3 linked regions of the Homo sapiens genome follow. The protein of the gene in region 1 interacts with the protein of each later gene in a biochemical or structural test. Each region holds a gene or a part of one and is shown in the gene's direction. Other genes may lie near its edges. The genes, in order: ERBB4, LRIG1 and LYN.

Region 1 (3,654 bases):
TGCCTTTGTAGATGTGTTTTTATCTCAGCTGATAATCCGAAATTGAGATATCATGCATCAACAGTAGCTTTCAATTTTTATCTGAAGGATTTACCTGGGCACATAAATTATGCTTCTGGATGTGGAGGTGATCTTTACTTCCCTGATTATTGGTCATGTACTAAAAAGTCAGAATTATAGTGATGATCCTCTAGTTAGGTACTAGAGCCTCAAATTCATAATAACCACAGAATTTTCGAAGGGAATAAAGACATAGGATTATTCAAAATATATCCATGTACTTCTATTCTTAATGACAACTGTCTATAATTAATGACACTTGCATTTATCATAAAAATTCACTTTGAAATTTGTATTAAATATAGGCACTTGTGGGAAAAGGGCATCAAATACATTTTATTAGAATATGTTTCAGTTGGTTAATAAAACTAGAATGTGTATTTCAAAATTATTTTCTGATGATTTATCTTTTAAGAAAAGTGGAAATTTTAGGTGTTTATAGTTTGTAACTCCATTAGCCACTAGGGGAAAAAAAACCAGTAAATACTATGACTATTCTCTGAAAGACTGGCTTTGATATCCTTGTGGCTATTAACATTCATTTTTAAACTATTTCTAACAACGCCTTCTCTCCACATATGTTTCTCTTATTAACAGAACCAGTTTGTATACCGAGATGGAGGTTTTGCTGCTGAACAAGGAGTGTCTGTGCCCTACAGAGCCCCAACTAGCACAATTCCAGAAGCTCCTGTGGCACAGGGTGCTACTGCTGAGATTTTTGATGACTCCTGCTGTAATGGCACCCTACGCAAGCCAGTGGCACCCCATGTCCAAGAGGACAGTAGCACCCAGAGGTACAGTGCTGACCCCACCGTGTTTGCCCCAGAACGGAGCCCACGAGGAGAGCTGGATGAGGAAGGTTACATGACTCCTATGCGAGACAAACCCAAACAAGGTATGAACTGATTATTCAGAAACGATCGCCATTCGAAGTTCACTTCCATCAAGATAAACAAAGTACAGAATAGAAATTGCCAGATAGCTGACCAGCACAACATTTGTGATCCAGTAAAGGCCTAGGCTACTGCTACTTGTAGTATGGTCCCTGAATCAGCAGCATCCACATTATTTATTATTATTTATATAAATCAGAATCTCAGGCAGGCCCCGTCTGAATAGGAATCTGGATTTTAACAAGATCCCCAGGCTATCTGCATACAGCAATCAGTCTTGAGAAGCACTATTCTAAACATATTTTGTTGAAATATTTGAATGAAGTAGCATACTACAAAGTGTCAGGACCATAGCTTTATTGGACTTAATTGCGGAGATCAGAAAGACTGGTATTGTTGGCAAAAGTGCCTGATGCTTTTGATGGCACTAATAAAAGATTTGTTTGACTCATTTAAATGATGACATTTAAACAACCTAGTTTATTATAGGAAAATATTATGTTCTTATATGACGTTTTTCAAAAATTAAAGGTTTGACCCTGTATATACTTACAAGCATACCACCAAGATTTGAAAATAATAATCTGTGGTTTTACAAAGCATAACAATAATTTTGTAAAGTTAGTAGTAGAAATGTTAAGCACCCAAATCAAATAATGCTTCAATTTTGCAACAAAACAGCCTTTCTTCTTCTATGCTAACAGTATCACAACAGAGAAGATAGATGATTGTTATTAAAAAATGATGATCATGTCTCTCGCAGTCTTTAGTGTCAACAGTAAACTACATTTTAAGACTCTGAGAAGGGCCTGGTATATGGTTATGTTCTCTCCTTTAAAGTAAAATTTAGAGATCTCTAATTGTAAATAACCTTTTAAAATATATCTGTCTAGATAAAATTTTTACATATCTAAAACTTCTATACATATAAAAATGTAATGAAGAGTTTGGATGCTCATAGTAGCCTAGTAATGACACAAATGTAGACGTTGTGAAGACTTGGCAGATTCACCCCAAAGAAGAATCTTTTCTGGGGAGATTTTCACTCCAACCGTAAAGTTATTGGACAGCTATATAAGTTTGCATGAGGACAATATATAAGTAGATTGCATTGAGGAAAGGTAAGGTGAAGAGAAAAGCAAGTCACCCTATAGAGTCACACTGTATTCTCAGATTTTATCTCTGAACACTAAGCTCCGTTTCTATAAAAGGTTGCTATAGTCTAACCTCGTACTCAGAGAGTACAGAATTTTAGTGTAGACATTCCTATTCTTTCAATTAAGAAGTTTAAGGAATCTGGTAAGAGAGACCAAATTCTGCATTCCTTATAAATGTTTTCATACACTTGTCAAATTAAAACTTGTTACTAAGCATAAAGTTCACCCAACTCCTGCAGGGGCAATAATAAAAAACAGTGCAGTAGAATAAGAAGATTATGCAAGAGGAGTTAGAAGACCTGAATTCTATCCCAACACTAATTGTATCCTGCACACATCATTTAATCTCATTTTTCTGTCTACAAAGCTGGAAAAATAAGTCTTGTACTTCTTTTTCACAGAATTGGGAGGATGAAATGATAGTGTCTTGTAAAGGCCTATATATGATAGTGGGATATTCATTACTGCCCTTTAAGTTGAATAAATGATGCTAAATACTTACCTATTCTGTATATATATATTTGGAGAAAAATAATCCTCACTTAATAGGATTTTTCTCTCTACTTATTGGGCTAAGGATAAAAGACAGAAAGTTTGTTTCAGAATGGCCTCTCAACAAAGAATTGTGCCCTCTTCATGCCTTGAATTCAAAATAGGAATAGCTTAGGGCTTTGTGTATATAGTAAAAGAGAGGACTGTCAGAGGACTTACAATACATGCGTGTTTATGTCTATGTGCAGTCTATATTATAGACATAGATGTGGAATTAAGCTTCAGGAGAATGGTGATAATTATTAGCACCTTTTAGGCCAATACCTATACTAGATGGATTTATTAGATTGATCCGTACAAAATAGGCACTAATTGACTGGTTTCAATATACAAAATTTATTTTATTTTATATAATTCAAGCTGATAGTTTGCTACTTTGTGATTATGATTGGTCAATGGAAATATTATAATTATACTTTACTATTAAGTAGAAGTATATGTAATGTCAAGCAGGTCAACTAGAGGCATGTTAGCTATCTGTTAGATTTGCTTTTTTAGTTGAATTTTTTTCCTTTGATGCTTTCTTTTCCATGTGTAAAACCTTTTTCAGAAGCATCTCCAATTAAATCCTTGTTACCAGTATAGGCAATCATAGCAAACCATAGAGACTAAAAAACATGATTTCTTCACTCCATCTATTCATCTTGGCATGGAACTCAGCTATAGATTCTTGTTTTTTCAATATCCTTTATAGAAGTTAAGTTGTCTGTATATTTAAAGACTATTTAATCCTAATAGGTAGTCTTATTTCCTAATATAAATAACTTTTAGAAAACAAAAACATTGAAACAACCAGCCCCATATGCAGAAGAGACAAATGCAATTAGAAAGAAAGAAAAATTTAGGAGATAGAAATTCTGATTCTGGCCTCGTTGGCTTCTTGTTTTATTATAAACATTTTTGACCCACTTACTCTTTTTTTCATAAGACAATGGTGATCCACAAATACTTGTTGTGAGAAATCATGAAAACAAATCTGTGGGTTTTTTTGT
Region 2 (3,654 bases), on another chromosome or scaffold:
GGCTCAGCCTCGGTCTCCTGCCTGGGTTTCCCATCGTTGCTGCATATACCTCGCTGGAGCCGGCCCTGTGCCCAGTCCTCAGATGAGAGAAATGGTTAATTCCACTTGGTCGTCTTTTTCTCCATCAGATCAAGTCAGGTTGTACTGTGCACTTAGTCATCCTCTGGGTAAATTTCCACAAGTGATGATTAGAAACACACTTTGAGTTGGAATCGTGAAAATGCACCATGTGAGCCAGCAAAGCCCTGGGATGGCAGCAGAAGGCAGTAGAGCCGATGGCGCTGTGCTCTCCACGGGTGGAAGAAGGGCGGCAGGAGCCTGCAGAGCCTAGGGGTTGGAATCCTCGCTACTGCCTGGCCCCAGGCCCTCCCCATGTATCCTCTCAGTCCTAACTTGCTGTTTAGGAACATGCTGTCTCCACCCTGAGTACCCACTGTCTTCCTGGAGTCTGGCCTCCTGTCTGAGGTGGGTTTCATGGTGGAAGAAGTAGGAAATCCTCAAAGGCGTTAGCCCCACACGTCCAGGGCGTGTGTAGGATGAGGCTTAGCCCTTTCTACATGTGTCTGATCAAAGATAAATGTCAAATTTGTTTTCCCGTTTGTTCCTGTGGTTCAAATGGAATATGTCCTTGTGTCCTGCACAAATGCTTAACGTCGCACAGGGATGGCCCAGCCTTCTCTCCTAGGCTTTCGTGAACAGTGCCCAGGCTGTTCTGCCTGACTGCACGGAAGTGCCCTCTTGCTGGGGAGCTGGAGGTGCTTCTGACAGCGGAGAGTTCTCCATCCAGGCTGAGTTCCCCCCATGCCTGGCGCAGCCAGCCCTGACCCCCATGCAGGGTGCACTCCTGGGAGCTGCCCTCCCCAAACACTGCATGGGAATTGACCATTTCCTCAGGGATGGCCGTTACAGCCCTTCCGCCACCTGCAGTGACTCCACAGTAGGACAGCCCTCCAGATGGCTCTCAGCAGAACGCTACCTGCCCGTGAAATAAAAATGCAAACTCTCATGCTGATTTTAAGATCTAATATGGGCCAGCATCCCAGTTATAATGGCCTTGAGATAAGTTATTTCTGTTTTTGGAAAAGCACTTTCCAAAATTATAATTATTTTAATAAGATGCCCAACTCATCTAGGGGTGATGGGGAACATGAGGAAGAGTGGATTTTACTTAATTTAGCCTTGGGTCATCTGCTTACACTTCATTCTTCCTTGCTGTGACAGTTTCTCTGCTCATTAGAAATCTGGAGAGAAACAGAAGAAAATGGAAGGCCAGTCCATTTGGTTGCTTTGTTGATGTCTGAGGACAGTGGTGGGTGGAGAAGGCAGCCAAAGTCGTGCTCTTGGCCTGCATGATGTTTTTGGAATTTCTGCGCATACCTGTGCCTCCTGTTTGTCACCATGTACCAGAGACAGTGTATTGCAGGGAAGCCTGTGTGCTCTCTTTCCCAGTCTTCCCTTATCGTGGGCCAGCCATCATTCTTTAGCTCACAGCTCTGAGGTCTTCCAGGAACAAGGCAGCTAGACTCTTGGTTGACTTATCTTCAAGTGACTCCTCAGGAAGGAATGTCCGCTGAGATGGCGATTCCGATTTCTGTTTAAAAAGCTTATCCTTAGTTGCTGAGAAATGAAAAAGAAAATATTCTCTGTTTTGGTTGGAGCCCCACAAAGCTAAAGTTGTGCATTCTCATGCTCCCTGGGCAGTGGCAATTAACTAACAAGCACTATTTAGGGAGCAGAGCCGAATTCTGCCGGCCCCCTGAAGAATACTGGTGCAAAGATCAAGGCACAAACAAGAGGGTGGCACAGTGACGGGGCTTATTACATTTGGAAGTAAGAAAACATGCAGCTTTGCCAAATGGAAAAGGAACAGCCATGAGGCAAAAGAGCCCTCCTCGGAACTTGTTGCAGAATTTGGATCAAAGTCTCAGGCCGAGTTTGGAAGCTCCAAGTAGTTTATCAGGAAAGTGGGAAAAACCAGAGGGGGGATGGTGGCAGCATAGCACTGTTGGATGTATCAGAGGTCAGGAGAGGTCAGAAGGCAGCCCAGGGTCACACAGGAACAGTGTCTGTCCCAGAACATGGCATGGATAAGCTCCACGTTGCTGCTGCTCCAGTTGCGGTCCTTGGGTCAGCAGCCCCAGCATGATACGTGAACTTGTTAGCAGAGTCGTGGGTTCCACTCCTGACCCACCCAATCAGCAACTGCATTTTTTCAAAATCTCCAGGTGGGTTATATGCACTGCCCTGGGAAATTGGAGAGGAAGTGTGAGAAAAACCATTTCCCCCTTCCAGCTTGCTGATGTTCACTTGAGAAGCTGATTGGAGGCGACTGATCATTGTGTGTGTGAAGGGAGTGTCCCTCCTTTGCGGCTGCACCTGAAGCATCCACTGTTGTGTTTCTTTCAGCCATATCAGCAGCGACAGCTTCCTGTGTGACTGCCAGCTGAAGTGGCTGCCCCCGTGGCTAATTGGCAGGATGCTGCAGGCCTTTGTGACAGCCACCTGTGCCCACCCAGAATCACTGAAGGGTCAGAGCATTTTCTCTGTGCCACCAGAGAGTTTCGTGTGCGGTAAGACTGTCTTTGTAACTTTTTCTCTCCTTCATGAAGGACAAGGAAGCCAGGAGGTACTCTTCATTATGGGAGTAATTCCTGTGATCAGAGTAAACCCCAGCCCGTGGTTACAGATCAGCTGCTGGATGCAATTTATTTCTTGCTGAAACCACACACAGTATTTACCGTAGAGTTGCCTCATTATGTGGTTCTTGGAGGACATGCATTTAATCAGAAGGGAGTATAAGTTGGTTCAGTTACAAATCAGAATAATCAGTTACAGGAAGATAGTTCTGTTGTTTCAGAAGGGCTCTGGTGCCCGGGTTTAGCTGCGAATGTACTCCGCGTACGAGGCTGGCGTTTTAATGTGTGTTTCTTTCCGACCCCAAGAATGAAAGGTTAAATACAGGAAGAACAAGTCTCAGGAGAACAGTTGCTGTAGTAAAAATAATTCCTTGATGTTGACTTGTACTCTTGCTGTTTCTCCAAACCACTGAAATCTGCACTTGCAGCTTTACATTCTTTTTGCCTTCTGATTCCTGGAGCGTAGCTCTTGCCATCTTTTTGACTGGGAGTCGGGATCCAAGTTTGGTTGCAGAGAGCACAGAAAATGCTGAACAGCTGAAAACACACACGCAGGCTAGCTCAGACAGGACTGACACAGGCTCACGGTCAGGAAGACATGGTCAAAAAATGAGATGAATTTTGAGTTTTTCCTGTTTGCTTGCTCTAAGCAGGAGCAAGAGTGGGATTCCCAGGCCTGACTGGAACTGCTGGGCAGGTGTTAAGTCCCTCCTGCCTTTTGTGCTCACTGGTCTCCCTTGAGCCTTGAGATCCCTGCTGTGAGGATCCTAACCAGGAACTCACCCATCCATATGGCAACCCTTGTGGGCCACTTCTGTCTCCTACTTTCTGGCCATAGCAATAGCCATTGTGCCTGCTGGAGTAGCCAGTGTGCCTGCTGGAGGCAAGATGTGTGTGCCCTCTCCATGCATCCACCCCTACCTTCACCATCACCACTTTTGAGAACAGGCCTGCTGAACTTCCTCTGGATCCAGACCAGGGACACGTCTTAAACCCACTGCGAACATGGCAGCAGCTC
Region 3 (3,654 bases), on another chromosome or scaffold:
CCTACCCTACATATGAAAATGGGAGCCTATTTCTGTTTTCAGATTGCAGAGGGAATGGCATACATCGAGCGGAAGAACTACATTCACCGGGACCTGCGAGCAGCTAATGTTCTGGTCTCCGAGTCACTCATGTGCAAAATTGCAGATTTTGGCCTTGCTAGAGTAATTGAAGATAATGAGTACACAGCAAGGGAAGGTATGTTGCACTAATGATCTTTAGATGTTTTATTATTGTGTTTTATTTTGTTTTTGTCTGTTTTTGACAAAGCAATTACAATAGTCACCATTAAGAAAAACTTATTTGGTACAACATTTAAGCTGTACCATAATTGTCTGCTTATGGTTCTATTCTAATAGTTTCTAGAAGGTACTCTCTTGATTAACTCCACATGATACTTTTGTTAGGCTTACAAATGCTATCAGTTGTATTTCAATTAAGCAATGCAAAACACAAATAGATTCAGCAAGATGATTCTTGTTTATTTTGTATTGTTAAAGTTTTCACTCAAACAATGAATATAATATACGGGGCTGTGGAGAAAATATTTGTAACATTAATTCTATATTGTTTATTCCAGCCTTTTAATTACAAATTAAAACATGAACATTACCATACACACAGAACTAAATATAATGCAAAAAATCTACTTCTTTATTTTCCCACATTCTGTATTATATATATGAACCAAAAATGCACAGAGAGGCCTAAGTTCCCCAGCCTGTGGCACATTGTCAGGGGGCCAAGCATGGTCGGGACTGCAGGGCCTTTCTTGGGCTAGGATTGCCCACGTGGTTATGACTGAGGATTCTTATGCTCTCACCCACGAGAGCTGAGCAAATATTTTTGCAGTGCTCACTGTCTTCTGGAAGAGACAAGCACTTTCTTGAAATTCCTAAGCATTGTTGAACAAGGATTATTATTATTTTATTATTTTGAACCTGGGAGGTGAAGGTTGCAGTGAGCCGAGATCGCATCATTACATTCCAGCCTGGGTGACAAGAGTGAAACTCCGCCTCAAAAAAAGAAAAGAAAAGAAAGTATGGGGTCACATGTTCATGACTTTTTTGTTTAAGTTTAAATACCCAAGTAAGAACCACATATCTTCTTCCTTAGGTGCTAAGTTCCCTATTAAGTGGACGGCTCCAGAAGCAATCAACTTTGGATGTTTCACTATTAAGTCTGATGTGTGGTCCTTTGGAATCCTCCTATACGAAATTGTCACCTATGGGAAAATTCCCTACCCAGGTATGGTTTACTTAGCTATTTACAATCAAGCTGTATAAATGAGAAAAAGTCAGGTTGCATGAAGGCATTAAAAAGTAATAATTACTTCATCTACCCGATAGCAAAGAATAAGTGCTTTGAGCCAGAACTTGATTTTCACGGGCTGGGCATGGTGGCTCACGCCTGTAATCCCAGCACTTTGGGAGGCCGAGGCAGGTGGATCACCTGAGGTCGGGAGTTGGAGACCAGACTGACCAACATGGAGAAACCCCGTCTCTACTAAAATTACAAAATTAGCCAGGCATGGTGACGCATGCCTGTAATCCCAGCTACTCGGGAGGCTGAGACAGGAGAATTGCTTGAACCCGGGAGGTGGAGGTTGCAGTGAGCTGAGATCGCGCCATTCCACTCCAGCCTACACGACAGAGTGAGACTCCATCTCGAAACAAAAAAAAGACTTGATTTTTATTTTCACTATCTTTAGCATAAATTGTTCTAAGAGTGCTTAGACACTTCTTTGCCTCCTTATTTTGAGTGTGTGTTCTTGTTCTGCACTGATTAATTCCACCACATACTAGAATGTTCCGGGCATGGTTGTTGGTGTCGAGATGAGGATGGATAGACACAGGGGCTCCTCCAAGGCAGTCCCCCTGACTGGAAGGAGGAAACCCACATGGAGACAAGGATTTCCGATGCTTGGTTTTGTAATAAGTGCCCTGGAGTCTCTCTCTCTTCAAGAAATAACCACCTTTGTTTATCAGTGGGAGGCCCTTCTGCTCTTTAACATACTGGTATCAGTGAGGGCATCATTCAGTATTTATTTCCAGATTCCTAACACCTGAAGCCTGCAGAGCCAGATTCTGACCATCCCTCCATTTTTCCATGGTCTGTGCTGGCATGGTTAAGAAGAGGGATTTCGGCCAGGTGCAGTGGCTTACACCTGTAATCCCAGCACTTTGGGAGGCTGAGGTGGGTGAATCACGAGGTCAGGAGTTCGAGACCAGCCTGGCCAACATGGTGAAACCCCGTCATTACTAAAAATACAAAAAATTAGCTGGGCGTAGTGGTGGGCATCTGTAATCCCACCTACTTGGGAGGCTGAGGCAGGAGAATCACTTCAACCTGGGAAGCACAGGTTGCAGTGAGCCGAGACTGCACCCCTGCACTCTAGCCATGGCGACAGAGTGAGACTCTGTCTCAAAAAAAAAAAAAAAAAAAAAAAAAAAAGAGGGATTTCTCCCAGAGCCTTCATATTTTCATTTATGTTTGACTATTAACAAAATATTTGCATGAGGGGAATTTAAAATTAAATTTTTAATGTTTAAATCTTTCTCCTATTCAAAAAATATTTGAGTATGCTAGGCACTCTCAGCTGCTAGGATGCCATGGTATCTGCCCATGTCCTTGAGAGTGAATATTGTAGTGGGGAGAGACTGATGTTTATCAAACACACAGCCATCCTGTAGGGTGGTGAGAGTAGTGTGGAGCCTGCGTGGAGTGGCTTAGGGATTGGCGAGTACTCACAGAAGGGGGTGGGGAGCTGCTGGTTTTATTCCATGGTCCTGGCAGCAGCAGGGACTCACAGAGGGAGGGAGTCTTGGGCTCTCTGAGGTCTGCATGTCCCCATGGGGAGAGCAGCCAGAGCATGGGCTTGGCCAACAGGAGCAGGAGGCCAGCGTGGTTTGGGCCTCTGTGAGTATTTGATGGATGGATGGGTGAATGAATGAATGAATGAATGACGCACCTAGGCCATTTGATCTCTAGACAGTCGATGGATGAGAAAGAAGGCTATGTAGCTGGGGGTTAGAGTGGCTCAGGGAGAGACTTACTGGCCATGTAAGAGCAGCCCCTCTTACTCTGCTGAGATGCAAACCAGGGAAGGCTTTTGGACAGAGCAGCCACACAGTCTGCGTGCTCCCATCACTACTGTTTCATGTGGGGATGAGCCACAGAGAAACTGGGGCAGGGACCAGTTGGCAGCTGAAAGCCTTTGGGTGGTGTCTGCCTGCACAGTGGACCGGCTGTCCCAGGAAATCCCTTTAGTGCCAGCATTTCATCTTCCAGCTGCTCTAGACACTGAGATTAATGAATTAACATTGCTGCAAAATAGGAAAAATATTTCTAATCAGCCCCAGTGTCTGATGTTATATATCTCTATCTCCATCTATGCCTACATCTCTTTCTATAATCTGTCTGTAGAGAAAGATTATATAGTCAGATTATGTATATAATCTGACACCTGATAAACATACAATCTCATAAAAGAATGTTTTGTGATATGCGTGGTGTGCTGCATGTGATGTGCTACCATGGCCCCTGAGGCTTGGAGAAGGTGATTGGGCCCCTCGCTGGTGGCAAAGCTGCTCTGAGCCCCAGATCCATGTGCCTCCCAAGACCCCTCAGCCAATGTGCACAATGCCCAGGATTTG

The links.
Region 2: the proteins of ERBB4 (region 1) and LRIG1 form a complex in vitro, tested with the Homo sapiens proteins (one study listed by BioGRID).
Region 3: the proteins of ERBB4 (region 1) and LYN form a complex in vitro, tested with the Homo sapiens proteins (one large-scale study listed by BioGRID).

Annotation. Positions count from the first base shown.
Region 1 is NC_000002.12:211,384,154-211,387,807, reverse strand, and holds part of ERBB4 (receptor tyrosine-protein kinase erbB-4 isoform JM-a/CYT-1 precursor), read left to right. Parts: intron 1-657; coding exon 658-955; intron 956-3,654. UniProt on the Homo sapiens protein: Tyrosine-protein kinase that plays an essential role as cell surface receptor for neuregulins and EGF family members and regulates development of the heart, the central nervous system and the mammary gland, gene transcription, cell proliferation, differentiation, migration and apoptosis.
Region 2 is NC_000003.12:66,392,956-66,396,609, reverse strand, and holds part of LRIG1 (leucine-rich repeats and immunoglobulin-like domains protein 1 isoform 1 precursor), read left to right. Parts: intron 1-2,406; coding exon 2,407-2,570; intron 2,571-3,654. UniProt on the Homo sapiens protein: Acts as a feedback negative regulator of signaling by receptor tyrosine kinases, through a mechanism that involves enhancement of receptor ubiquitination and accelerated intracellular degradation.
Region 3 is NC_000008.11:55,998,304-56,001,957, forward strand, and holds part of LYN (tyrosine-protein kinase Lyn), read left to right. Parts: intron 1-42; coding exon 43-196; intron 197-1,114; coding exon 1,115-1,246; intron 1,247-3,654. UniProt on the Homo sapiens protein: Non-receptor tyrosine-protein kinase that transmits signals from cell surface receptors and plays an important role in the regulation of innate and adaptive immune responses, hematopoiesis, responses to growth factors and cytokines, integrin signaling, but also responses to DNA damage and genotoxic agents.